Homo sapiens: one gene and its partners. The gene in region 5 interacts genetically with the main gene of each other region. Each region holds a gene or a part of one and is shown on either strand. Other genes may lie near its edges. The genes, in order: ZC3H11A, HECTD1, PRDM4, KHDRBS1, SREBF1, KDELR3 and ENO3.

What was found.
Region 1: changes in SREBF1 (region 5) and ZC3H11A together harm fitness more than expected from each alone (negative genetic interaction), as found in Homo sapiens cells (one large-scale study listed by BioGRID).
Region 2: changes in SREBF1 (region 5) and HECTD1 together harm fitness less than expected from each alone (positive genetic interaction), as found in Homo sapiens cells (one large-scale study listed by BioGRID).
Region 3: changes in SREBF1 (region 5) and PRDM4 together harm fitness more than expected from each alone (negative genetic interaction), as found in Homo sapiens cells (one large-scale study listed by BioGRID).
Region 4: changes in SREBF1 (region 5) and KHDRBS1 together harm fitness less than expected from each alone (positive genetic interaction), as found in Homo sapiens cells (one large-scale study listed by BioGRID).
Region 6: changes in SREBF1 (region 5) and KDELR3 together harm fitness more than expected from each alone (negative genetic interaction), as found in Homo sapiens cells (one large-scale study listed by BioGRID).
Region 7: changes in SREBF1 (region 5) and ENO3 together harm fitness more than expected from each alone (negative genetic interaction), as found in Homo sapiens cells (one large-scale study listed by BioGRID).

The regions. Positions count from the first base shown.
Region 1 is NC_000001.11:203,802,123-203,805,622, reverse strand, and holds part of ZC3H11A (zinc finger CCCH domain-containing protein 11A), read right to left. Parts: coding exon of another isoform or gene 3,431-3,500; 5' UTR 2,607-3,430; intron 1-2,606. Other genes in the region: uncharacterized LOC128031836, read right to left, coding at 3,431-3,500. UniProt on the Homo sapiens protein: Through its association with TREX complex components, may participate in the export and post-transcriptional coordination of selected mRNA transcripts, including those required to maintain the metabolic processes in embryonic cells.
Region 2 is NC_000014.9:31,099,794-31,103,293, reverse strand, and holds the end of HECTD1 (E3 ubiquitin-protein ligase HECTD1), read left to right. Parts: intron 1-227; coding exon 228-378; intron 379-1,969; coding exon 1,970-2,114; intron 2,115-2,226; coding exon 2,227-2,364; 3' UTR 2,365-3,177; downstream 3,178-3,500. UniProt on the Homo sapiens protein: E3 ubiquitin-protein ligase which accepts ubiquitin from an E2 ubiquitin-conjugating enzyme in the form of a thioester and then directly transfers the ubiquitin to targeted substrates.
Region 3 is NC_000012.12:107,758,338-107,762,551, reverse strand, and holds the start of PRDM4 (PR domain zinc finger protein 4), read left to right. Parts: upstream 1-1,414; 5' UTR 1,415-1,595; intron 1,596-1,780; 5' UTR 1,781-2,036; coding exon 2,037-2,047; intron 2,048-2,583; exon of another isoform or gene 2,584-2,780; intron 2,781-4,159; exon of another isoform or gene 4,160-4,214. UniProt on the Homo sapiens protein: May function as a transcription factor involved in cell differentiation.
Region 4 is NC_000001.11:32,020,368-32,023,867, reverse strand, and holds part of KHDRBS1 (KH domain-containing, RNA-binding, signal transduction-associated protein 1), read right to left. Parts: intron 1-3,500. UniProt on the Homo sapiens protein: Recruited and tyrosine phosphorylated by several receptor systems, for example the T-cell, leptin and insulin receptors. Once phosphorylated, functions as an adapter protein in signal transduction cascades by binding to SH2 and SH3 domain-containing proteins.
Region 5 is NC_000017.11:17,826,987-17,830,486, reverse strand, and holds part of SREBF1 (sterol regulatory element-binding protein 1), read left to right. Parts: intron 1-3,500.
Region 6 is NC_000022.11:38,478,096-38,481,021, forward strand, and holds part of KDELR3 (ER lumen protein-retaining receptor 3), read left to right. Parts: intron 1-1,497; coding exon 1,498-1,656; intron 1,657-2,926.
Region 7 is NC_000017.11:4,954,119-4,957,629, forward strand, and holds the end of ENO3 (beta-enolase), read left to right. Parts: intron 1-956; coding exon 957-1,179; intron 1,180-1,288; coding exon 1,289-1,486; intron 1,487-1,823; coding exon 1,824-2,025; intron 2,026-2,454; coding exon 2,455-2,563; intron 2,564-2,712; coding exon 2,713-2,771; intron 2,772-2,859; coding exon 2,860-2,929; 3' UTR 2,930-3,011; downstream 3,012-3,511. UniProt on the Homo sapiens protein: Glycolytic enzyme that catalyzes the conversion of 2-phosphoglycerate to phosphoenolpyruvate. Appears to have a function in striated muscle development and regeneration.

The DNA of each region.
Region 1 (3,500 bases), on a different chromosome or scaffold from region 5:
CATACATTTGCATTTAAGTACATCATGTAAAACATATTATGGGACTATGAAATACTGATCTTTCCAAATTTACCGTAACAGATACGTTTCTGTCCTTTCTTTGAAGGAAAGTTTAATTACATTGCTCTTCTATTTTTTTCCTTTGAGACTCATTGCTTGGGAAATGCTTTCTTTGTACTAAAACTTGATTCTGGCAGGGCGCGGTGGCTCACACCTGTAATCCCAGCACTTTGAAAGGCTGAGGCAGGCAGATCACAAGGTCAGAAGTTCGAGACCAGCCTGGCCAACATGGTGAAACCCCATCTCTACTAAAAATACAAAAAATTAGCCGGGTGTGGTGGCGGGCGCCTGTAGTCCTACTCTCGGGAGACTGAAGCAGGAGAATTGCTTGAACCCAGGAGGCGGAGGTCCAGTGAGCCAAGATCACCCCACAGCCTGGGCGACAGAGCAAGACTCTGTCTCAAAAAAAAAAAAAAAAATCACTACTGTATCAGAAGTGGGTATTTTGATTCTGTGGTTTCCTTAATACTACATCTTGAAATCAATAATGAATATTTCTTGATATTTGATGAATAGGACATTTATTTACTCAATTTTTTCAAAAGGAAAAAAAGGCATAAATTACAAACATATATTAAAAAGACGAGACAGGCCGGGCACAATAGCTCACGCCTGTAATCCCAGCACTTTAGGAGGCCGAGTTGGGCAGATCACCTGAGGTCAGGAGTTTGAGACCAGCCTGGCCAATATGATGAAACCCCATCTCTACTAAAAATACAAAAATCAGCCGGGCATGGTGGCATGCGCCTGTAATCTCAGCTACTTGGGAGGCTGAGACAGAAGAATCACTTGAACCTGGAAGGCAGAGGTTGCAATGAGCCAAGACAGCACCATTGCACTCCAGCCTAGGCAACGAGAGCAATACTCCATATCAAAAAAAAAAAAAAAGATGAGGCAAAAAAGAAAAAAATCCAGAACCTGCAGATTACATGCTTGCAAACTAGAAAATCTATCAACTAAAACAAATTGAAAATAATAAAAATGTAAGATCTACAAGAAGCAGTAAATTTCCTTCATACCAGCAATAATCATTCAGATGATGGCAGAGTACCACTCACAGTAAAAAGATATACAGGAAGAGACCATTCACAATAAAAAGATATACAGGAAGGGCCGGGCGTGGTGGCTCATGCTTGTAATCCTAGCACTTTGGGAGGCCGAGGCGGGCGGATCACGAGGTCAGGAGATGGAGACCATCCTGTCTAACACGGTGAAACCCCGTCTCTACTAAAAATACAAAAAAGTTAGCCAGGCGAGGTGGCGGGTGCCTGTAGTCCCAGCTACTCGGGAGGCTGAGGCAGGAGAATGGCGTGAACCCGGGAGGCGGAGTTTGCAGTGAATCGAGATCACGCCACTGCACTCCAGCCTGGGCGACAGAGCGAGACTCTGTCTCAAAAAAAAAAAAAAAAACACATATACAGGAAGAAAATGAAGAAGTATGCAAGACCCACATTAAATTAAAAACAAAACCAAAACACTATGAAACTACTAAGGCACAGAAGACCTGGATAATGAATAAATAGAGGATTAAAGAAATTACTTCTCCCCAAAAAATAATGCACACATCGAATGTAATTCAAGTCAAAATCCCAATTAGAGTTTATTACTGGAACTTGATTATAAAATCATCTAGAATCATTATTTAAAAAGGAATGGGAGGCCAGGCATGGTGGCTCACACCTGTAATCCCAACACTGGTTGGCCAAGGCAGGAAGACTGCTTGAACCCAGGAGTTTGAGAACAGCCTGGGCAACACAGAGCAACTCCATCTCTACAAAAGGTTTTAAAAAGTAGCCAGGTACAGTGGGGCACACCTGTAGTTCCAGCTACTCAGGAGGCTTCGGCAATAGGATCTCTTAAGCCCAGGGGTTTGACGTTGCAGTGAGCTATGATCATGCCACTGCACTCCAGCCTCAGTGACAGAGCACAAGACCCTGTTTCAAAACGAAACAAAATAACCCAGTGCTTTTCTCCAAGGAGATGGAATTACAGGAAGATTTCACTTTGGCTATGCTGTTTTTACCTTTTTTACAATGTACATATATTATCAAAACAAAGAAAGAAAAACTATGGGCCAGAGGCGGTGGCTCATGCCTGTAATCCCAGCACTTTGGGAGGCTGAGGCTGGTGGATCACCTGAGGTCAGGAATTCCAGACCAGCCTGGCCAAGATGGTGAAACTTCATCTCCACTAATAATACAAAAATTATCCGGTGTAGTGGTGCACATCTGTAATCCCAGCTACCCAGGAGGCTGAGGCAGGAGAACTGCTTGAACCTGGGAGGAGGAGGTTGCAGTGAGCCAAGATGGCACCATTGCACTCCAGCCTAGGGGACAAGAGTAAAACTCCGTCTCCAAAAAAGAAAAAAAGAAAAGAAAGAAAAAAATATGTTTCCATCCCAAAACTAAAAATTTGTAAACAATTATGTACAAGCAAAAATGTCTGAACAATGGCCTTTTAATTTCTTACTGATCCATGAAAATTATGCCTTAAATGACAAGAATGTTCACTCCTTTCATGCGAAAAATGCCTGCTTCCCCACTTACATTAGCTGGTTGCTCTGAACAGGAACATCTGTGTCTTCACTGAGTTCCAATCTATTACGCCTGTAGGTCGAACCAACACTCAATCCATGAATTAATAATAATGAGGCAGAAAAAAATTTCCTCCTCACATTGCCAAGAAAACCTCTCAGCCACAATTCAAACACAGCATGTGTTTTTAAAACATCTCCCAACTACTGGGAGATTAAGTCCATTCAAATAACCTTTGTCAGACTGGAGACAGCTAGGGTTAGTTATCTCCTCAAAAACAAAACAAAACAAAACAAAAAAAAAACAAAAAAAAAGAGTTCATTTAAAGATGAACTTGAGAGTTAAAGGATCATGAAAAAAAACTCCATCTTCCATAGCTGAACAATATAATTTAAAAAAAAAACAAAAAAACATCAGTTTTTCAGTAAGATCCAATTTCTGGTCTTCAAGATTTCTTCACCTATTAAGAAAAAAACAGAAACCTTCCCCCATCTTTATTATCTGTATAATAAAAGCATACTTGTATGTAAAAATATAGTGTTTTATGTATATAATATACATACAGATATATACTAACTGGCTTATACACACACACATATACACAAAAATGTATAGAAATATAACATTTGGATAAGTTTCCCCTTTTAAAATGCACTATAAAAGACTTTAGATTTGGGTTCATTATAAAAATAAAGAACTTACTCTTATACCAAAGTATCATGAAGTTATTGTTACACTAAATTTTGCCCAGCCCACAAAATAAAGACGAAGGTAAATCCTTACACATATATCATTATGTATAATATGGATGTATGTATATATATCCATCATCGTCATCAGGGAGTGTTTAACCAAAAAAGATAGAAACGTATGGTAATAGAGTAACTACAGAGTGGTGCAGCAAGC
Region 2 (3,500 bases), on a different chromosome or scaffold from region 5:
TGGGATTACAGGCGTGAGCCACCGTGCCCAGCCCATTCTTTTTTATGGTTGCATAGTATTCCATTGTGTACATATACCACATTTTCTTTACACATTCATCCCTTGATAGATACTTAGATTGATTCTGATAATGGGTATTTTGGTTTGAAATTTGGTATTTTGGAATCGTAACTTGGAAACTGAGTTGTATGTTTGTTTTTTGTGTTTCCGTTACATGTACGATGTAGATGGGTTTAATAAAGTTTTTCCAATGGAGAAATTAAGTTCCTTCAGCCATGAAGAAGTCCAAATGATTCTTTGTGGAAACCAGTCACCATCCTGGGCAGCAGAGGATATTATCAATTACACTGAACCTAAGCTGGGTTATACACGTGACAGGTATGTGATACTATTTTCCAAGATCAACAAAATTATTTATATTCCCCAAATCAAATGACAGATTCTCTAAAGAACTTTAATTCAGTGAGTATCATAAAGTAAGTGAGAAAGCAGTGGTGTCTCACAGTTACCAGAATGCATATCCACTGATAAGGCTGGGAGGATACAAAAAGACAACTGACAGCAGGCCGGGCGCGGTGGCTCACACCTGTAATCCCAGCACTTTGGGAGGCTAAGGCGGGCGGATCACTTGAGGTCAGGAGTTTGAGACCAGCCTGGCCAACACGGTGAAACCTCGTTTCTACTAAAAATACAAAAATTACCTGGGCGTGGTGGCAGACGCCTGTAATCCCAGCTACTTGGGAGGCTGAGACAGGAGAATCACTTGAACCCAAGAGGTGGAGGTTGCAGTGAGCCAAGATCATGCCATTGCACTCCAGCCTGGGCAACAAGAGTGAAACTCTGTCTCAAAAAAAAAAAAAAAAAAAAGACAACTGACATCATGGCTGATGTTGATTCCTTTCCTCATTGTGTTTTAATTGTTCATTTTTAAAATTTGGTAAATTGTAAGCTGTTGGGCTATATACTACGTTTATATTAAACTTTTTATTGAATATAACAGATAAGTACACACATCATATATACAGTTTAGAGGATTTTGTCAAAATGAACACACCTGTATAATTGGTATCCAGAATATGAAACAACTTCAAAAATCCCCCTTCCCACCATATTCTTTTCTATTAATCTAATCACCATATGTTGATCAGTTTTGCTTGCTTTTGAACTTTTAATATATGAAATCATGTAGTCTGTTTTCTTTGTGGTCTGGTTTGAGTAATATTATGATTATGAAATTTATCCATGTTGTGGCATGTCGTTCATTTACTATTTCATTACATAAATTTATCACAAGATAATTATTTTGCTGGAATAAAAATTATTTCAGATCCCCTTTGGTATATTTATCCATATTTGAAATGATTTTGCAAGTGCATCCTGTGTTTTTATGATTTGCTGACTTTGTTGCAGAATAGATGGACCCCATACACTGTCAGTATTTTTTAGTTCTTACAATTTGTAAGTTCAAGACAGTCTTTGAGGGATTTTTATTTTTATTTTTGAGATGGAGTTTCGCTCTTATTGTCCAGGCTGGAATGCAATGGCACAATCTCAGCTCACTGAAACCTCTATCTCCCAGGTTCAAGCGATTCTCCTGCCTTAGCCTCCCAAGTAGCTGGGATTACAGGCGTGCGCCACCACGCCCAGCTAATTTTGTATTTTTAGTAGAGATGGGGTTTCACCATGTTTGTCAGGCTGCTGTTGAACTCTTGACCTCAGATGATCCACCCGCCTCAGCCTCCCAAGGTGCTGGGATTACAGGTATGAGCCACCACACCTGGCCCGGGATATTTTTAAAGTAGCTTATATTAGCCCATTTCATACTTAACCAAGAGTCTCTAGATGTGTTGTTGTTCTGGTGTGAGGATATTGTTTTTTAGGGGGCTTGTTGCTGCCTTAGAAAATAGTGGTAGTGATTTTCATTTAAATCTGCAGTCAACTCAATATAACTATATTTTTGTTCTTTTAGCCCTGGTTTCCTGAGGTTTGTGAGGGTTTTATGTGGCATGTCTTCTGATGAAAGGAAAGCATTCTTGCAGTTTACCACTGGTTGTTCAACTCTACCCCCAGGTGGACTGGCTAACCTGCATCCCAGGCTCACGGTTGTACGCAAGGTACAAGCTCTCTGGCTAATGGGGAATCCAAATGAAATTTAGTTACTTTACTTTTGAAAGAAAGAAGTATTTAAACTCATGGTCTTCTGTTGTGTTTGCTTTCTTGTTGTAGGTTGATGCTACTGATGCAAGCTATCCATCAGTCAATACATGTGTGCATTACCTTAAGTTGCCTGAATATTCTTCCGAGGAGATCATGAGAGAGCGCCTGCTAGCTGCTACAATGGAGAAAGGCTTTCATCTCAATTGAGCTTTGAAGTGCAATGGGAGACATCAGAGACTTTAAAAATACTAGTGAAGCCTCTTGTGTTTGTGTGCAGAGAAGTATATGATCCACCATGCTAATGACACTTGCCTTTTTTTCCACCATTAAGGCTTTAAGAACATGTGGAATAAGTTTTTTAGCTGCTAATGACAAAACAAATCCTGTAACTACCCAGCCAGCAAGTATATAGCACAGAACACTGTGTTACTTTACAAGGGCTTATGTGACTGGAATAAGGTGGTCCCACTTGACTGTTCCAAAGAGCAGCTTCTCAGATCTTCAGTGTTCACTGGTAAATTTCTAACAGTGTATTTGTGTAAAGTTTGTCATTTCATACTCCATACACTACAGTTGCTGTCACTGATCCCTGTTTTGCTGGCTTTTAAGCTACTTGGTCAAAAATCCTGCTTCCTTAAAACATAGAGAATTAATGAGCATCTCAAGCTTTTTCTTTTCCTTTTTAATGATGCCTGCACTATCAAGAGTATTCTAGTGTTCTCTCTTTGTTTGGCATATAATCATGCACCAAACTTTTTATTTCTTTAAGGTGGGAGTATATTTTTATTTCCTAAATGCCATACTATGAAGATCAAAGTCTTAAGTGTGTTTGCAGCTCAAAAATAAAGATGTATTAAGGGGGGAAAACCTGGTCTAAGTGCAAGGCACACTTACAGCGAGTTTTACTTTCGGTTGTATTTTCTTTGTATATTATAAACATTTATTTAACTTGTTGCCGTTTGAAGTAAAAAATTTCCAAAATGTATGCTCAACAATAATCATTAAAATGTTTGCAGCGTACAGAACTGTGTCATGTGACTATTTCAATGCAGTCATCAGACTTAAGAGCTTTAGCAGGTACTTGTCATTTTGAATCATCCAAAGTTTTCTGAAATTACTACATAAAGAAATGTGTTTTTCTATAGTAAATACGGGTATTAAAATTGAAAGGCTAGAAGAAATATATATTCACACACTTGTGATCCAATGGTTGGGTTCAGTTTTAAAGTATGCCTCAGCTAGAACTGACCAGTTACTTGTGTTATTTTTTTAAAAAAACACCAGATCCACAACTTAACTATTGTATCTATAAGGATATATAAGTAAGGATGTAAGTGAGATCC
Region 3 (4,214 bases), on a different chromosome or scaffold from region 5:
TTTTGTAGAGACAGGGTCTCACTTTGTTGCCCAGGATGGTCTCAAACTCCTGGGCTCAAGCGATCCTCCTACCTCAGCTTCCCAAAGTGCTGAGGAGAGAGCCACTGCACTTGCTCCAATTTTTTAATAGTTTGTGATTTTTTTGTCCTATCAAGGTCACAAAGATTTTTGCCTTTATTTTCCTCTGTAAGTATTATGGTTTTAGCTCTTACATTTATGTGACCTGATTTTTATGTTCACCTCTCAACTTAATAAAATTGTTCCAAAAGAACAGACATCCAAACCCAAACCTAGTGAAAGCATTCGGCCGGTAATAAGATACATCATCATTCTCTAGGCTCCAGATTTGAAGTGGCATTTCAGGGAATACTGTCTCTCAGTTGAGATGATGACCTTCTTGATTTAGATTTCTATTTGTTGTCAACAGAGAGCAAAACCAATGTGACCTGCCTGCCAATGTTCAGTGAAGTTTCCTCATCTGGAATGTGCTTTCCCCCCATGAGAAGTAAACGAAGGGAAACATTATGGGGGTTGACACCCCTCCCAGCTCTCGTCCAAAAGGTTGCATGTGCCTCTACCCTTTCACATTAGACTGAATTTTCAAAATTCATCAGTTCCCACTAGACTGCAGGCAGGTGAAGGTCAGGGCTTGTGCCTTGCTCTGTATCCCTAGGTTTGAGATGTAATTCAACAGACGCTTTGTGAATGACAGGAAGAATTCCTGGGTCTGCTGTTCTGCTGGTGTAAGGGAGCCACCAGGCAGTGTGGTGTAATTTCAACGTCTACTGCTCAGGAGCTTGGGACCACCTTCCTTTAAAGCCATCTCGGTACTCCTAGCGTTAGGCACAGTGCCTGGCGCGCAGTAGAGAACTGAGGGCAGAGAAAAGGGGAAGGAAATTTTGTTTAAAATCCCAAACCCCAGCATTTACGACGGGAAGCAGGGAAACTGGGCAGCCTTCAGGTGTAGCAGACGGCCGAAAATATTCAGGATAGAATCCCAATTCCTCCTGGGCAGCAGAGGCAACCCTCGGGGCCAAATCCCATACTTCGAATTTTGGGGGCTTTGTGTGGACCCATGCTTCTCTAGTAGGGGAATGTCATGAAGACGAAATCCTGAGTCTGCGGGATTTAGGGGATTCAAAACTCAATCCCTGCAGGAACAGCAGCCCTGGTCGCCTAGCAACCATGGGCCGATCGCTCGGCGCTCGATTCTACCCGGCCGGATGGAGACGCGGAACTCCCGGCCGAGCCTCTCGCGGCCAGTGCCTCTGCCGTGCGCACGCGCGGAGGGGCCTGGGCTGGGAGAAGGGCGACGCGGTGCGCGGGCGCCGCTTGCGGGCCGCGGCGGGGAGGGCGCACGCACGAGGGGCGGAGCGGCGGGCGCTGAGAGTGGCTGAGGATCCGGAAACGCGCCGCAGAGGGTGCGGCCCAGAGGAGGCCGCGGGCCGGGAAGGGCCGGGCGGGACGGGAAACGTTAGGGCAGCGGCCCCCGGGGTGAGGGGGCCGAGCGGACGGGCAGGGCCCCGAGGCGAACTCTGCCCGGATGAGGAACAAAGCAGTGGGGCAGGCGCGTGCGCCCCCAGCGCAGCTGGCAGGTGGGCTGCGCGCGGGCCCGGCCGGAGCGGGGCGGGGCGCGGCGGCCCGGCCTGCGGGCCGCGGGCGGGCTAATCCACAGCCCTTGGGTGGCGGTGTCGGCAGCGCCTGGGGCTTTCGGGTAGCTGGGATGGGGGCTGCGACCTTGTTGTGGTTTTGGTGACCGCTCTTGTCCCCACTCCCCCAGGTTGGGCAGCCCCCTTCCCGAAGCTTCTGGACGGAAGGCCCCAGGTGTTCCCCGAGATGCCCCAACCCGTGGCGGGGTGCACGGCCACCGGCCCTCGGGAGAAGTTGGGCGGCCCCGGGCGACCCCGGGGACGAGTGGCCGCGTCGGTGCAGCGGTTGTGAGCAAGATGTGGTAGCACGTGACCCTGGAACGCAAACCCTGATGCCTGTTCCCCACCACCCGAGCGCTCCTTTCTCTGATATTTGGCCCCAAGCCGATGCATCACAGGTGAGTAGGGAGGTGGGCTTCAGCACTGGTGACATCGTTGGAAACTCTGGCGAGTGAGTGTCCAGGGTCAGTGCCGTTGTTTTTGGTGCCATTGAGAAGGTTACAGGTGTGATTTGCAAAGGAAACAAATCCAGAAACTAGTGTTGGGTGGAATGTAATCTCATGCATCCTAATTTACTCCACATGTGGAAAGTTGTTCCCAGTAGCCACACGTTTATTGTTGGCTTGTTGACACCTTTTCCTGTGTCTTTCAGTTATTTGAGCGTTTAATATATTTTTCCGGATTCCAACGTGTATTGTTATCTTATTATGCTTCACCTTGAGTTTTGCTGGTATGGCAGGGACGATAGTGAGGGAATTAAGTTCTTAATTCTGCAAGCTTCATGCTGATGTTTAAGTACAGAAGCAGGCCACAGAAATTGTTGCATTTGGCTGTTTTTTCAAGGCCCTTTCAAAGGCCGTATGTTTAGAATAAGGAAGATAAGGCACAAATTCATTGAAATTATTGAAGCCCCACTGCATTTTTCAAAGTGGCTGCATTTCAGTTAGTTTATTATATTTTATGCGAAGAAAAAGGTGTAAAATCAGCAACTGGCAGATGGTTGCATAGGTCAGTTAGAAACACACACATAAACTGTAGAACTGTGTAGGAAATTATTTTACCCTAAATGAGTAGGGAAGATAGAGCTTAGTATCTTGATTCTTGCCTTCTTCCGGGATTGCTTCTTAGAATCTCATAGGAGAAAGAAAATGAGAATAGAACTGCATTTTAGAATGAGAAAGTCTTATGAGGATCATATTGTACATTCCCTTCATCTGCCTTCTCTCTGTGGGATACTCATTACCTTTGGTTTATGGCTGCTGAGGTCATCACGTTTTAGTGACTCACAACAAAGCAGAAATCTGCTGAGCCTCTCGCATTAAACTCTGGTTTGAACTGGTTTGAGAAGGCCTAGGAGTCAACCTAGAAACACCATGCTGATTTTTATCTTGAAATTAAATAAATATTCAGGAATTTTCAGAATGAGAGTTGAAGGTGCAGACTTGTAGTTGTACTTTTAAAAAAATATTGTAACCAATTTGTTAAGTAGGCTGTTACAGCTGTAGTGATTGTAGTGTTTTAATTATGGTTGTAGCTATAAAGAGTTAGGGAAAAGTCTGTTTTAAACCAACTCAAGCCCAGCAACTTTCAAAATTAAGGTAGATATGTTTTCTTTAGGCTACAGGGATTTTTTGCTTTTTTTGTTTTTAAGACACAGTCTCACTCTGTCACCCCAGCTGGCGTGTAGAGGTACAGGCAGAGCTCACTGTAGCCCCGACCTCCCCACTTCAGCCTCCCCTGTAGTTGGAACCACAAGCACGAACCACCATGCCTGGCTAAGTTAAAAAAAATGTTTAGTAGAGACAGGGGTCTCACTGTGTTGCCTAGGGACGTCTCCAAGTCCTGGGCTCAAGCGATCCTTCTGCCTTGGCCTCCCAAAGTGTGGGATTACAGGTGTAAATCACCACACCTGGGCTGCTTTATTTTATAGCATAATAAAAACTGTTATTAGCATGCTGTTCTTCATAAGGTGTACCTCATTTGCCAGGTGCTTCTAGCTGTCTTTCTGGTAAGGGTGATGAGTTTGCATAGCTCCATCCGATAAAATAAGAAAATTCAGAATGTCTGTTCTATACAAGGTACTAGGTTGGCCTTTTACATTTTATTGATGTCTTAGAGCTTAGTTTTATGGGATCCATGGCCAGGGATAAGGGTGAAACCTAATAATGCAAGAAACAGGTCTATGTGGAACTTTAAATATACGCCACAATATAAGTAGATAGGCCCTAATGTATTGCAACTGTGTAAAAGGCAATATAGTTCTTTTATTGTAATTGTCTTTTTCTTACTATAGTTAAGAGCTTTGGTTTCTTAAATTAGTTCTGAATTTAAATCCCAGCTCTCCTTACTGGTTATGTGATTCTGGGTTAAGTTTCCTAGCATCATTGAATCTTAAGTTTCCTCATCTTTAAAGTGGGATTAAGAATAATACCTACCTCCAGCCTGGGCAACATAGGGAGACCCCATCTCTGCAAAATAAAAACAAATTAGCCAGGCATGGTGGCACTTGCCTGTGGTCCCAGCTGCTTGGGGGCTGAGGTGGGAAGATCTCATGAGCCTAGGAGG
Region 4 (3,500 bases), on a different chromosome or scaffold from region 5:
TTAAGTACAATTTATACCCTCAGACACTGGCATGTGGCCTAAAGGTAATAAAAGGGCTTTATGGGTGTCTCAGATGTTCAGTTGTCTGATGGTCTGGTCTTTCTTTTTTCTTTTTCAACTCTGTATGTCTCTCCTTGTCCTTGCTTTCCCCGGAGAGCTAGAGTAGACTGAAATGGGAAGACAAAAAATCAAGGAGGAGCTTCCTAAAAATGGTTTAACCTCAGGCAAAAGTACTTTCTAGACAACCCTTTTGGAACTGACTCCTTTAAGTAATCTTTGCTTGGGTCTCTGGAGACCTTGGATATCCCAAGGGCCAAAGAAAACAAAGCTGAGGTGTAAACAACACAAGAGGTGACCCATTTGTTTCCCAGCCACTCAGAATAATCATATCTTATCCAATGCCTTCTATGCGTCAGGAATTTTGTATTTATTATTTCACTTTGTCTTTGTAACCAGTATTATCTTCATTTGACAGATGAAGAAACCCGGGCTCAGAAAAGCTATATAACTTGTCCAAGATCTCAAAACTAATTAGTGACATAGCAGATACTTAAACCCAAGTCACTTCTTATACCAAAGAAAGTAAATTCAGTTAACCTTTCAAAATTTCCTTCATCTTTTACTATAACTTAACCTTTCCCACCCCCCACTTTTGTTTTTTTTGTAGATTTTATCCCAACCAGACTATAAGCTTCCACGTTGCTTAATATATCTTGGAGGAAAGACAAGGGTTTTGAAGCTAGACAAAGTGGGTTTGATTCCCAGCTCTCCTACATGCTTGGTGTATGACTTTAAAAGAGAATGTTAATAAGAAAAATAGTAAGAAAAAAAGAGAGAGGGCGAAAAAGAGATGTAACTCACACAAAAAAAGTTAATATTAGAGAAGTCTGGGAAAATTATATACCAACTTTATCAACTGGTCTGGCTTAACTAAAAAATCAATACAAATATATCATTAACTGAACTTTTTTTTTTTTTGAGACAGGGTCTTGCTCTGTCACCCACACTGGAGTGCAGTGGCGCAATTTTGGCTCACTGCAACCTCCGCCTCCCGGGTTCAAGCAATTCTCCTGTCTCAGCCTCCCGAGTAGCTGGTGACTATAGGCGCATGCCACCACACCTGGCTAATTTTTGTATTTTTAGTAGAGACGGGGTTTCACCGTGTTAGCTAGGATGGTCTCGATCTCCTGACCTTGTGATCCACCTGCCTCGGCCTCCCAAAGTGTTGGGATTACAAGCGTGAGCCACCGCGCCCGGCCAACTGAACGTTTGATATGGCCTGCATAAGGAACAAGACAATGGTCAAGATTTTCTAAGTATCCAGAGCGAGTATTTCTAGGAGAGCAAGATTCTCAGAACTGCTCTAAAAGGTCAGGGTTCATTTCATACCCTCCTCTAGACTCCCACTATACTTGGTTCTACACTTCTAAACACAGCACTCCTCCTTTGCCTGTTGTTAACAATCTCTGGACTCCTTCCATTGCTGAGTGTCTGTAATTCTTAGTACAGTACAATGCTTGATACACAACAGGCATCTATAATCATTAACCGAATTAAAAGAAATGTACCGGCTGGGGCGCGGTGGCTCACACCTGTAATCCCAGCACTTTGGGAGGCCAAGGTGGGCAGGAGATCGAGACTATCCTGGCCAACATGGTGAAACCCTGTTTCTACTATGGTGAAACCCTGTCTCTACTAAAGATTTAAAGATTTACTCTAGCTAAATCTAAAAACTGGTTGGGCGTGGTGGCGCGCTCCTGTAGTCTCAGCTACTCAGGAGGCTGAGAGAGGAGAATCGCTTGAACCCGGGAGGTGGAGGTTGTAGTGAGCCGAGATCATGCCACTGCACTCCAGTCTCCAGCCTGGGTGACAGAGCAAGACTCCATCTCCTTAAAAAAAAAAAAAAAAGAAATGTGCCGCTGGGTGTGGTGCCTCACGCCTATAATCCCAGCACTTTGGGAGGCTGAGGCAGGCAGATAACCTGAGGTCAGAAGTTCAAGACCAGCCTGGCCAACACAGTGAAACCTTGTCTCTACTAAAAATACAAAACTTAGCCAGGCGTGGTGCCGCCTGCCTGTCAAAAATTAGCCAGGTGTGGTGTCATGCGCCTGTAATCCCAGTTACTTGAGAGGCTGAGGCACAAGAATCGCTTGAACCCGGGAAGCAGAGGTTGCAGTGAGCCAAGATTGCGTTACTGCACTCCAGCCTGAGTGACATAGTGAGAACCTGTTTCAAAAAAAAACAAATACAAAAAAGTATGGTTAACACCCTCAACTTCCCTTAAACAACTCACATGACTTTATCATCCCCAAATTTATAATTCTCAACTTTTCTGTTGGTATCATCTTTTGGAATCAGAAGTCCCATAAGCTTACTATTGCAAAACAACTTCATTTGTTTTATTTATCAAATTACTTATTGTTTCAAGCAAGAGCACAAAGCCAATAGGTTCTTTATTTTTTTTGGAATCATGGGTCCCTCTGAGAATTTGATGGAAGCTACTGATTAGCAACCCAGAAAAAAATATAAACTCATAATATATTATATACAATATTGGCTATGGGTATAGAAAGGCTGGGTATTGGTTAAAAAAAAATCCCCCAAAGGCCTGTTACAAGCCCTTTCATATGGGCTCAATTTTTACATTCCAGGACAGTAGAAAACTCTGTCATATTGACTATGGTCTCCCAAATCTTTTCCTTAGTGCACAATTTAGAGCTTTGCAACTTTGAAAATTTTTTTTTTTAATTTTAAGGCAATTTTAGATTTATATGCAGTTCTAAGAAATAACAGAGATCCTGTATACTTTAGTTTTCCCCATAACATTTTGCATATCTGTATCACAATCAGAAAATTAACATTAAAATAAGAAAATTTGTTGTACAGGTTTCATGGAAAAAAAATTAACAATTGACTTTATTAGGATTTCACCACCTTTACATGTACTTGTTTGCTTAGTTCTATGCAATTTAATCAGACTCATGTGACCACCACCTCAGTCAAGATACAGAACAGTTCCATCATGAGGATCCTTACCCTTTGATAGCCAGTCACCGTTTTCCCTCATCTCTCACCACTGGCAACCACTAATATAGTCTTCATCTCCACTATTCTGTTTCTTCAAGAATGTTATATTAATGAAATCATATAGTATGTAACCTTTTGAGATTGGCTTTCTTCACTCAGCTTAATTCTCTTGTGATCAAGCAAGTTGCTGCATTTATTAACAGTTCCTTTTTTTTTTTTTTTTTATTGCACAGTACTGTTCCACTGTATGGGTGTGCCAGTTTATTGGAGGCATTTGGTTTGTTTCCAGTTTTTGGCTACTATGAATAAAGCTGCTGTGAACATTCATGTACAGGTTTTGTGTTGAGTTTTAATTTCCCTGAAATAAATACCCAAGAATGCAACTGTTGAACGATACGGTAAGCACGTTTTTTTTTTGAGACAGGATCTCACTGTTGCCCAAGCTGGAGTGCAGTGGCACGATCTCAGCTCAA
Region 5 (3,500 bases):
CAAGTCCAAGAACCTTCAGGTTCTTAACAATGTAAAGGGAGCAGTACTAAAAGCAGCTTCTTGGAATTGTGGGGATCCGATGAGTGAAGGCTTAAGCAGTGCATGGCACATAGTAGGCCCTGAACCAATGCCAGTTAGTGTTATTATTATCACCATTTAGCCAGATGCAGTGGCTCACGCCTATAATCTTATTGACTTTAGAGGCTGAGGTTGGAGGATTGCTTGAGACCAGGAGTTCAAGACCAGCCTGGGCAACATAGCAAGGCCCTGTTTGTTTTAGAGAAAACAAACAAATCACCATTTAGAGCACCTAACCAGTACCTGGCACGCGATAGGTTTAGCTCAACAAATGTTAGCAGCAATTACCCAAGGAGCCTGTGCTGGAAGTTTCTAGGATGTACCAGGCTATGGTTCCAAGTTCTGAGCATCTACCATGTGGTGGTCTGGAGTTGGTGAGAGACAGGATGGGGCTGACTAGGCCAGTGGGGAGCACCCCCCGCCATGGGGAACAAGCACCCTATCCTTGGCTTCCATGGAAGATAATTGATGCTGGGCACAGTGGCTCACGCCTGTAATCCCAGCACTTTGGGAGGCTGAGGCAGGGGGATCGCTTGAGTCTGGGAGTTCAAGACCAGCCTGGGCAACATTGTGAGACCCAAACTAAAAAAATTAGCTTGGCATGGTGGAGTGTGCCTGTCGTCCCAGCTACTCAGGAGGCTGAGGCTAAAGCTGGAGGATTGCTTGAGCCCAGGAGGTTGAGGCTGCAGTGAGCCATGATCATACCACTACACTCCAGCCTGGGCAACATAGTGAGGCCCTGTCTCAAAACAAACAAACAAAAAGAACCTGCTGAGGAAGCAGTGTTTCTGGCTGGGGGAGGACGGGCAGAGTGGCCATCTGGCCACAGATGGCGGTTTCTGTGCAAAACACATCAAGGCAGCCTTGGAAATGTGAGTGAAAGCACCTTCAAAGTTCTGGTCACAGCCTTGGGACTAAGCAAAGCCACCAAAAGTACATAAAAGACAATGACCATCACCCAGTGCCGGTGATGCTAGAAGGAAAGGGAATACGTTGTAGGGAAGGTTGTAAAGGGCTTTATCTTTTCCAGACTGGAGCCTGGCAGCTCGAAAACATCTTGCTGCCTTCATATGAGCTTTAAAACAAGCTGCAGAGAAACAACTCAAGAGGGAGAAATATATATATATATGTGTGTGTGTGTGTATGTGTGAGTGTGTGTGTGTGTGTGTATACATATATATATATATATATATATATATATATTTTTTTTTTTTTTTAAGATGGAGTCTCGTTCTGTCACCAGGCTGGAGTGCAGTGGTACAATCTCGGCTCACTGCAACCTCCGCCTCCTGGGTTCAAATGATTCTCCTGCGTCAGCCTCCCAAGCAGCTGGGACTATAGGCACATACCACCACGCCCAGCTAATTTTTGTATTTTTAGTAGAGGCTGGATTTCACCATGTTGGCCAGGATGGTTTTGATCTCCTGACCTCGTGATCTGCCTGCCTTAGCCTCCCAAAGTGTTGGGATTACAGGCGTGAGCCAGTTTGTTTTTAGAGACGGGGTCTTGCTCTGTCACCCAGGCTGGAATACCATGGCACAATCACAGCTCGCTGCAATGTTGAACTCCCGGGTTCAAGGGATCCTCCCACCTCAGCCTCCAGAGTAATGGAGACTACAGGCTCATGCCACCATGCCCAGCTATTTTTAAAACTTTGTAGAGATGGGGCCTTGCTACATTGCCCAGGCTGGTCTTGAACTCCTGGGCTCAAGTGATCTGCCTGCCTTTGCCTCCCAAAGTGCTGTTATTACAGGTGTGAGCCCCTGCGCCTAACCTTAGCACTGCCATTTTGACTGAAAACAGGTGCCCAGCAGCAGGGGCTACTCCCAGAATTGCCACTGCATCAGGCCCGTGGGTTGTTTTCAGCTGCCAGTGATAAGTATGTGCCCTGGGCCACCTCTCGGACAAGGTGTCTGAATTGGTGCCGACCAGCATCACATGTAATTGCCATCTCGCAGGTGCTGCTGAGGGTAATTCCGCACACCTGTAGCTCCGGGAAGAGCCTAGTGGGGAGGAGGAAACGTGGCTCTGAGGTTTATAGGGTCAGACGGTCAGTATGTTGGGAGCTGGCATGTGGAGGGGCACAGACAAGGGAAGAATGGGAGGTGGCATCAGAGCAAGTTTTGATGGAGGAATAGGAATTCACCAGGTGGAAAGGGCATTCCTGGTGGAGGGAACAGCCTGGCCTTCAATAGCTTGTGGTGTTCAGAAAGCAGGCAGGGAAAGGGAGGCCCAGGGAGACACCAGTTAGGGGATGGGGGTGGAGGCAGACGAGGGTGGAGGAAGCCATGGCTGGAGTCTGCACGGCCTCTGACTGGGGTCCCTGCTGTGGTCAGCCCTGTGCTGGGTGAGGCTGGGGTCACAGCTGGTTCAGGCCCTGACAGGAGGGGCCCCCAGCTGAGGCCCAGCCTCTAATTTGGCAGGGCAGGTGGATAGGTCTGGGGGGGTGGTGGTTAGGAAGCCTCCAGGAGGAGGCAGTGCCGGAGCTGAGCCTTAAAGAGCTTCGTGTTGTCCTCTCTGTCTTTGCACTCTGCACACACTCACTGAACTGCGACAAATGAGGATAGCTGGTCAGGGCAGAGGCAGGCCGGAGTTGGGGCTCACTGCTGTCCCCCACAGGCTGGGGCTGAAGGGCAGGCTCTGGGGCCGCAGAATGGGGTTTGTGTACCAGATTCTTCATATGGCAGCTGTGGGACTTTGGGCACGAGGCCTCCGTCTGAGCCTTAGTTTCCTCAAGAGGACCTGCGCCCAGGTGCACCTGGGGCTCCAGCCATGGGTGCGTCCCATTCCGGGAAGAGCTGGCACACACTTGTGCCCCCGGGGCAGCCATGAGTGCACAAAGGGCAGCCTGTGCCACTGCTGGATACACGACCAGCTGAGAACACGAGGACCGCCGACTCCAGTTAGGAGGATCAAGGAAGTGCCTGGTGGGAGCAGAACAGCAGGTGGGGTGCAGCCCAGCTCCCTGGAGGGATGGTGGGCACCCATCCTCACCCTGCTGCCTCCATTAGCAGGCCGAGAGGGTGTGCTCTGGAATCCCATGAGCACCTGTGCCACATCCTCCCCTGTGGCTGACCCTTCTTCACAGTTGGTGCAGCTTTGTGGTCTGTAGTGCAGGGATCAATTGGCAAATCCCTTTCCCACCCATTCCCTGGAGAATTGGGGTCCTTGGCTCAGATGACAGACCAACCTGAGTTGGAATCCCAGCTCCTTGGTGGCCGTCCTGGCCTCCACCCCCTCACTGCCTCCGCTCCTCCTATCCTGCCCACGCCCACTGCAGGGCCTTTGCACACACTGTTTCTTCTGCCCTCCCTTCCGGCCCACTCCCTCATATCATTCAGTCCTCCTTTCAGATGTCACCTCCTAAGATGGGCTGCCCTGACCACCTCATCTATAATGGCCCCAGTGCCTGGCACAGGATT
Region 6 (2,926 bases), on a different chromosome or scaffold from region 5:
ACATGGAGCTATGGCGACAGAATGTGTGCCTCATTGTAGTGAAAAAAAGACTGCTTCGAGGAAATAACTCCAAATAGGAGTACAAATAGGAGTGCTCTAGGCCAGTGTGGTCCTGCTCCGGCAGTATCAGCGTCACTTGGGAAACTTGTTAGAAATACAAACTTTTAAGGCTGGGCTCGGTGGCTCATGCCTATAATCCCAGCACTTTGGGAGGCCGAGGCGGGCGGATCACCTGAGGTGAGGAGTTCGAGACAAGCCTGACCAACATGGTGAAACTAAAAATATAAAAATTAGCCGGGCATGGTGGTGCACGCCTGTAATCCCAGCTACTCAGGAGGCTGAGGCAGGAGAATCACTTGAATCCAGGAGGCGGAGGTTGCAGTGAGACAAGACTGCACCACTGCACTCCAGCCTGGGCGACAGAGCGAGACTCCATCTCAAAAAAAAAAAAAAAAAGGAAGAACAAACTTTCAGGCCCATCCAGACCTATGAAATCAAAAGCTCTTGGGGCAAGGGAAGAGACAGCATCTGTGATTTTTTTTTTTTTTTTTTTTTTTTTTTTTTGAGACAGAGTCTCACTCTTATCCCCCAGGCTGGAGTACAATGGCATGATCTCGGCTCACTGCAACCTCTGCCTCCCGGGTTCAAGCGATTCTCCTGCCTCAGCCTCCCAGGTAGCTGGGATTACAGGCGCCCGCATGCATGCCTGGCTAGTTTTTTTATTTTTAGTAGAAACAGGGTTTCACCATGTTGGCCAGGCTGGTCTCAAACTCTTGACCTCAGGTGATCTGCCCACCTTGGCCTCCCAAGGTGCTGGGATTACAGGTGTGAGCCTCCACACCCAGGCAGCATCTGTGTTTTGATGCACACTCATTTGAGAAGTGCTGGCCTGGAAGGTTGGAGGCCATATCAAAATGAAATCATTATATGCCAGAGGACAGCTACTGTGATTAGGAGAGCTTTTCTGAAGGAGCAATGGTCAGTTAGTTCAAGGGATGTTAGCAGGCCATAAGTAGTCCCAGCTTCTAGGGAGGCTGGAGCAGGAGGATCACTCGACCCCAGGGTTTGAGGCCAGACTGGGCAACATTTAAAAAAAAAAAGGCTAGTCCTTGTGGAAGAATGCTCAGAAGTCACTGATGCATATCCAGGAAATTGTTTTAAAATTGTTTCAAGAGCCCTGGAATGCCTCTGGTAAATCCCCTGAAATAGACCAATCCTGTTTCACCTAATGCTCCACAAATGAAGGGGACGACAAGGGCACCTTTGTTCATGGCAGCACTGTCAGTCCCAGTATAGAAGCATGGAGTTATTTAATGAAAGGGTCACTGATTTCAAATTCTAGGCAACTGGACCCAAGATAAATTGCAAACACATTTAACCTCTTCATGTTACATTATGGCAGAACACTGACCCTTAGGTTTGGTAGGCTAGGAGCGTAGTAAATAGGCCGGGAAATGACTTCATAGATTCGATTCCCATGTCTCTCTCCCCTTTTAGGTGGTTTTTCTCCTCTGTGCCTATGTTACAGTGTACATGATATATGGGAAATTCCGTAAAACTTTTGACAGTGAGAATGACACATTCCGCCTGGAGTTTCTTCTGGTCCCAGTCATTGGCCTTTCCTTCCTTGAAAACTACAGTTTCACTCTGCTGGAGGTAAGGGAATGGACTGAGTACCAGTTCTCAAAGGGAAATATGCTCCCTGCATCCTTCCCTCCAGACCCTGGGCTTGCCTTCTGCTTACAACTGTGACCATTACTCATGTATCTTTCAGTTATAAGTTGAGAAGAAATTGACAAGCTATTTACAATGCTTTAGTTGGAAATGAGCACATCTCAATAGTCATGATGCCCATAAACCAAGCAGGCATCACAGCCCTACTTCTGGCTGTTGAGACGTTCTGTTCAACCGATTAGCAGATCCCTGTATCCCTGTAGCACAGTCCAGGCCCAGAAATTTCAACTCAGTAAGTTTGGACTGTGGCCCATGAATCTGCAGGCAACAAGCATCATGGGAGATTCTGATGCTGGTGTTTATGGACATGACTAATTTTTTATTATTTTTTTGAGATGGAGTCTCACTCTGTTGCCCAGGCTGGAGTGCAGTGGCAGGATCTCAGCTCACTGCAACCTCTGCCTCCTGGGTTCAGGTGATTCTCCTGTCTCAGCTTCCCAAGTAACTGGGATTATAGGCACGAGCCACCACACTCAGCTAATTTTTGTATTTTTAGTTGAGACGGGGTTTCACCATGTTGGCCAGGCTGGTCTCCAACTCCTGACCTCAAGTGATCCACCCACCTCGGCCTCCCAAAGTTCTCGGATTATAGGTGTGAGCCTGGCAACATGACTAGATTTTAAGAAACTGTGGCTTCAATTATGATTTTATACTATGAAACTATCATTTAAGTTATTTTTGGCCGGGCACGGTGGCTCATGAGGTCAGGAGATCGAGACCATCCTGGCTAACACAGTGAAACCCTGTCTCTACTGAAAAATAGAAAAAAAAAAATTAGCCGAGCGTGGTGGCAGGCGCCTGTAGTCTCAGCTACTCGGGAGGCTGAGACAGGAGAATGGAGTGAACCCAGGAGGTGGAGCTTGCAGTGAGCCGAGATCGCACCACTGCACTCCAGCCTGGGAGACAGAGCGAGACTCCATCTCAAAAAAATAAATAAAAAAGTTATTTTTGGCTGGGTGTAGTGGCACATGCCTGTATGTAGTCCCAGCTACTAAGGAAGGTGAGATGGAAAGATCACTTGAGCCCAGGAGTTTGAGACTGCAGCAAGCTATGATCATGCCACTGCACTCCAGCCTGGGTGACAACAGCAAGACCCTATCTTAAAAAAAAAAAAATTAAAAGTAGTTTTCTATATAAATGCTCACGCTACACTGTGAAAAAAGCAGTGTACTGTATAATCTTTCAAAAATTA
Region 7 (3,511 bases), about 13 Mb from region 5:
CACCCTACACCCAAATCATATTGAGAGTTTCTTTGAGGCAAAGATCTTGGCATTTCTTTGTATCTTCTTGAGTCCTTCTTAAACCAGTGCCTTCTTGATGAATGGAAACTCTTTGAATTTAATCTCAATAATAATGTTACCATTTCTTGTTACTTACTAGGAGGATTGCATAAGAGCATGGTCTCTAGAGATAGATTGCTGGGTTTGAATCCTGGCTCTGCCTGTTATTAGTTGTATGATTTTAGGCAAGTTCTTTAACTGCTCTGTCTCAGTTTCCCCATCTGTAAAATGGGGGGTAATAACGATACCAATGAATAGAGGTGTTTTGAGAATGAAATGGGCTAATACATGTAAAGTACTTAGTGCGTGGCATGTAGTAAGTGCTATATAAAAGTGTTAGCTATTATATACTAGGCACATGCTAAGAACTTTACATTCAATTTCTCTAATTTTCAGCAAAAGATCCTACAGGGAAGTAGGTGCTATCCCCATTTTACAGAAATGAGGAAAGAGAGGCTGGGCACAGTGGCTCACGCCTGTAATCCCAGCACTTCGGGAGGCCGAGGCGGGCAGATCACAAGGTCAGGAGTTCGAGACCAGCCTGACCAACATGGTGAAACCCCGTCTCTACTAAAAATACAAAAATTAGCCAGGCATGGTGGCACCCACCTATAGTCCCAGCTACTAGGGAGGCTAAGGCAGGAGAATCACTTGAACCCGGGAGGCGGAGGTTGCGCCATTGCACTCCAGCCTGGTGACAAAGTGAGACTCCGTCTCAAAAAAAAAAAAAAAAAAAGAAAGAAATGAGGAAAGAGGCTCTTGAGCAAAACTACTCATCCTAGACCACTGAGCTAGTAAGTAGGGAAGCCAGGTTTCCACCCCAACACCCCCCGCCCCTGTCCCTTCTTGAGCTCTCATGCCCCGGCCCAGGTCCAGACACCCTCTCCCCATCTCAGGCCTTCAATGTGATCAACGGGGGCTCCCATGCTGGAAACAAGCTGGCCATGCAGGAGTTCATGATTCTGCCTGTGGGAGCCAGCTCCTTCAAGGAAGCCATGCGCATTGGCGCCGAGGTCTACCACCACCTCAAGGGGGTCATCAAGGCCAAGTATGGGAAGGATGCCACCAATGTGGGTGATGAAGGTGGCTTCGCACCCAACATCCTGGAGAACAATGAGGGTCAGTGCTGAGCACCCTGGGGGGCAGACCCCCTGGATCTCCACATGGGCAGGGGAGGCTGCAGACAAGGGGCACTGGAGTCTCAGGTCCTTTCTTGGTCCTCCCCCAGCCCTGGAGCTGCTGAAGACGGCCATCCAGGCGGCTGGTTACCCAGACAAGGTGGTGATCGGCATGGATGTGGCAGCATCTGAGTTCTATCGCAATGGGAAGTACGATCTTGACTTCAAGTCGCCTGATGATCCCGCACGGCACATCACTGGGGAGAAGCTCGGAGAGCTGTATAAGAGCTTTATCAAGAACTATCCTGGTGAGGCGTTCGGGTGTCCCAGTGTTCCTGCCCGAATCCCGTGCAGCTGCCTAATATACTGATTTCAGTGACCTGCTTTGCCATCGACTTGGATCCTTCCAATTCTTAGCCCCATTAAAATCCCCATTTAAGCTCTTCTGCCCTGTCACCCCTCCATGAGGCTCCTTCTGACCTCTAGCCGTGTCTCTGCCCTGTCTCTGCCTTGTCTCTGCCCTGTCTCTGCTCTGTCTCTGCCCTGTCTCTGCCCTGTCTCTGCCCTGTCTCTGCTCTGTCTCTGCCCTGTCTCTGCCCTGTCTCTGCTCTGTCTCTGCCCTGTCTCTGCTCCAAACCCCACCAGTGGTCTCCATCGAAGACCCCTTTGACCAGGATGACTGGGCCACTTGGACCTCCTTCCTCTCGGGGGTGAACATCCAGATTGTGGGGGATGACTTGACAGTCACCAACCCCAAGAGGATTGCCCAGGCCGTTGAGAAGAAGGCCTGCAACTGTCTGCTGCTGAAGGTCAACCAGATCGGCTCGGTGACCGAATCGATCCAGGCGTGAGTGCCTCCTGACCCTGAGGCTCACCATAGCCTGCCTCTGCCCCAGCTCTGCCCACTCCAGCTACAGTCTTACCCACCAACTCCAAGCTTACCTTTCCCCTGGCACCTGACTTACCCACACCTTGATCTCAAGACTTTGTTTGACTAATCCTTGGCCTGACTCCAAGAGCTTTGCCCCTGTGGCTCTGTCATGACCCCCCACCCCCAGCCCACACCATTCCTCTCTCAGATTCCGCTGTTCTCAGCAGCATCTCAAGAGCCCGAAATCAAGATAAGTCTTTTCCTCTCCTACTTCCCAAAGAACTTAGTCACTGCCCTCCCTGCAGAGTGCTTGCTACCCAAAACAGAAGGGAGAGGCCCCACCCAACCCCTGCTTTCCCACTGAGGAGGTTCTAGAAGGCCACATCAAATGTCCTCTCCACTCAGGTGCAAACTGGCTCAGTCTAATGGCTGGGGGGTGATGGTGAGCCACCGCTCTGGGGAGACTGAGGACACATTCATTGCTGACCTTGTGGTGGGGCTCTGCACAGGACAGGTACTTGTAGCTTCTCTCTACTGAGTGTCTCACCAAGTTTTCTTGGGGTCCCTGGCCTCCTGCCTTTGAGGTTAATGCTCCCTTGGGGCCAGGTCCAACCCCTCCTTTCCAGCCTCACCTAACCCTCCAAATTCTTCTTCCCTCATCAGATCAAGACTGGCGCCCCCTGCCGCTCGGAGCGTCTGGCCAAATACAACCAACTCATGAGGTACAGCGGGAACAGTGGGCCTGGGCATTGGGGTGCTGGAGGCTGTTAGGTTGGAAGTTCAGCAGCCCTAACCTTGCCTGCATTCTAGGATCGAGGAGGCTCTTGGGGACAAGGCAATCTTTGCTGGACGCAAGTTCCGTAACCCGAAGGCCAAGTGAGAAGCTGGAGGCTCCAGGACTCCACTGGACAGACCCAGGTCTTCCAGACCTGCTTCCTGAAATAAACACTGGTGCCAACCAAGACAGCTGTGTGCTTCTTTGTGGGAGCTAGGGGATGCTGGTTTCTGGGCTGAGCTGGGGAAAACAGGAGGTGGCGAGATGGGGGCGGGGAGGGGAGGCAAATAGATATGTAACCTGCTAGGACAAAGAGGAGGTGAGGGACTCACAGAGGAAGCTGGGTGGTTCTAGAACAACAGAGGTGTTCACATTTCCAAAGGAGGTAGGGGAAGCAGATGCTATATGGTAAAATGAAGCTGCAGAGTTGCCAATGGAGCCGGGCATGGTGGCGCTCGCCTGTAGTCCCAGATACCTGGGAGGCTGAGTTGAGAGGATCGCTTGAGCCCAGGAGGTTGAGGCTGCAGTACACTATGTTCGTACCACTGCACTCCAGCCTGGGCTGCAGAGCAAGACCCTGTCTCAAAGCAACAACAACAAAAAAAAACAAAAACAAACAAAAAAACTAAATAAAGAGTTTCAGAGGGAATAAGAAACCAGCTCCAGGAGAGGGGAGCAGGGTGGGGA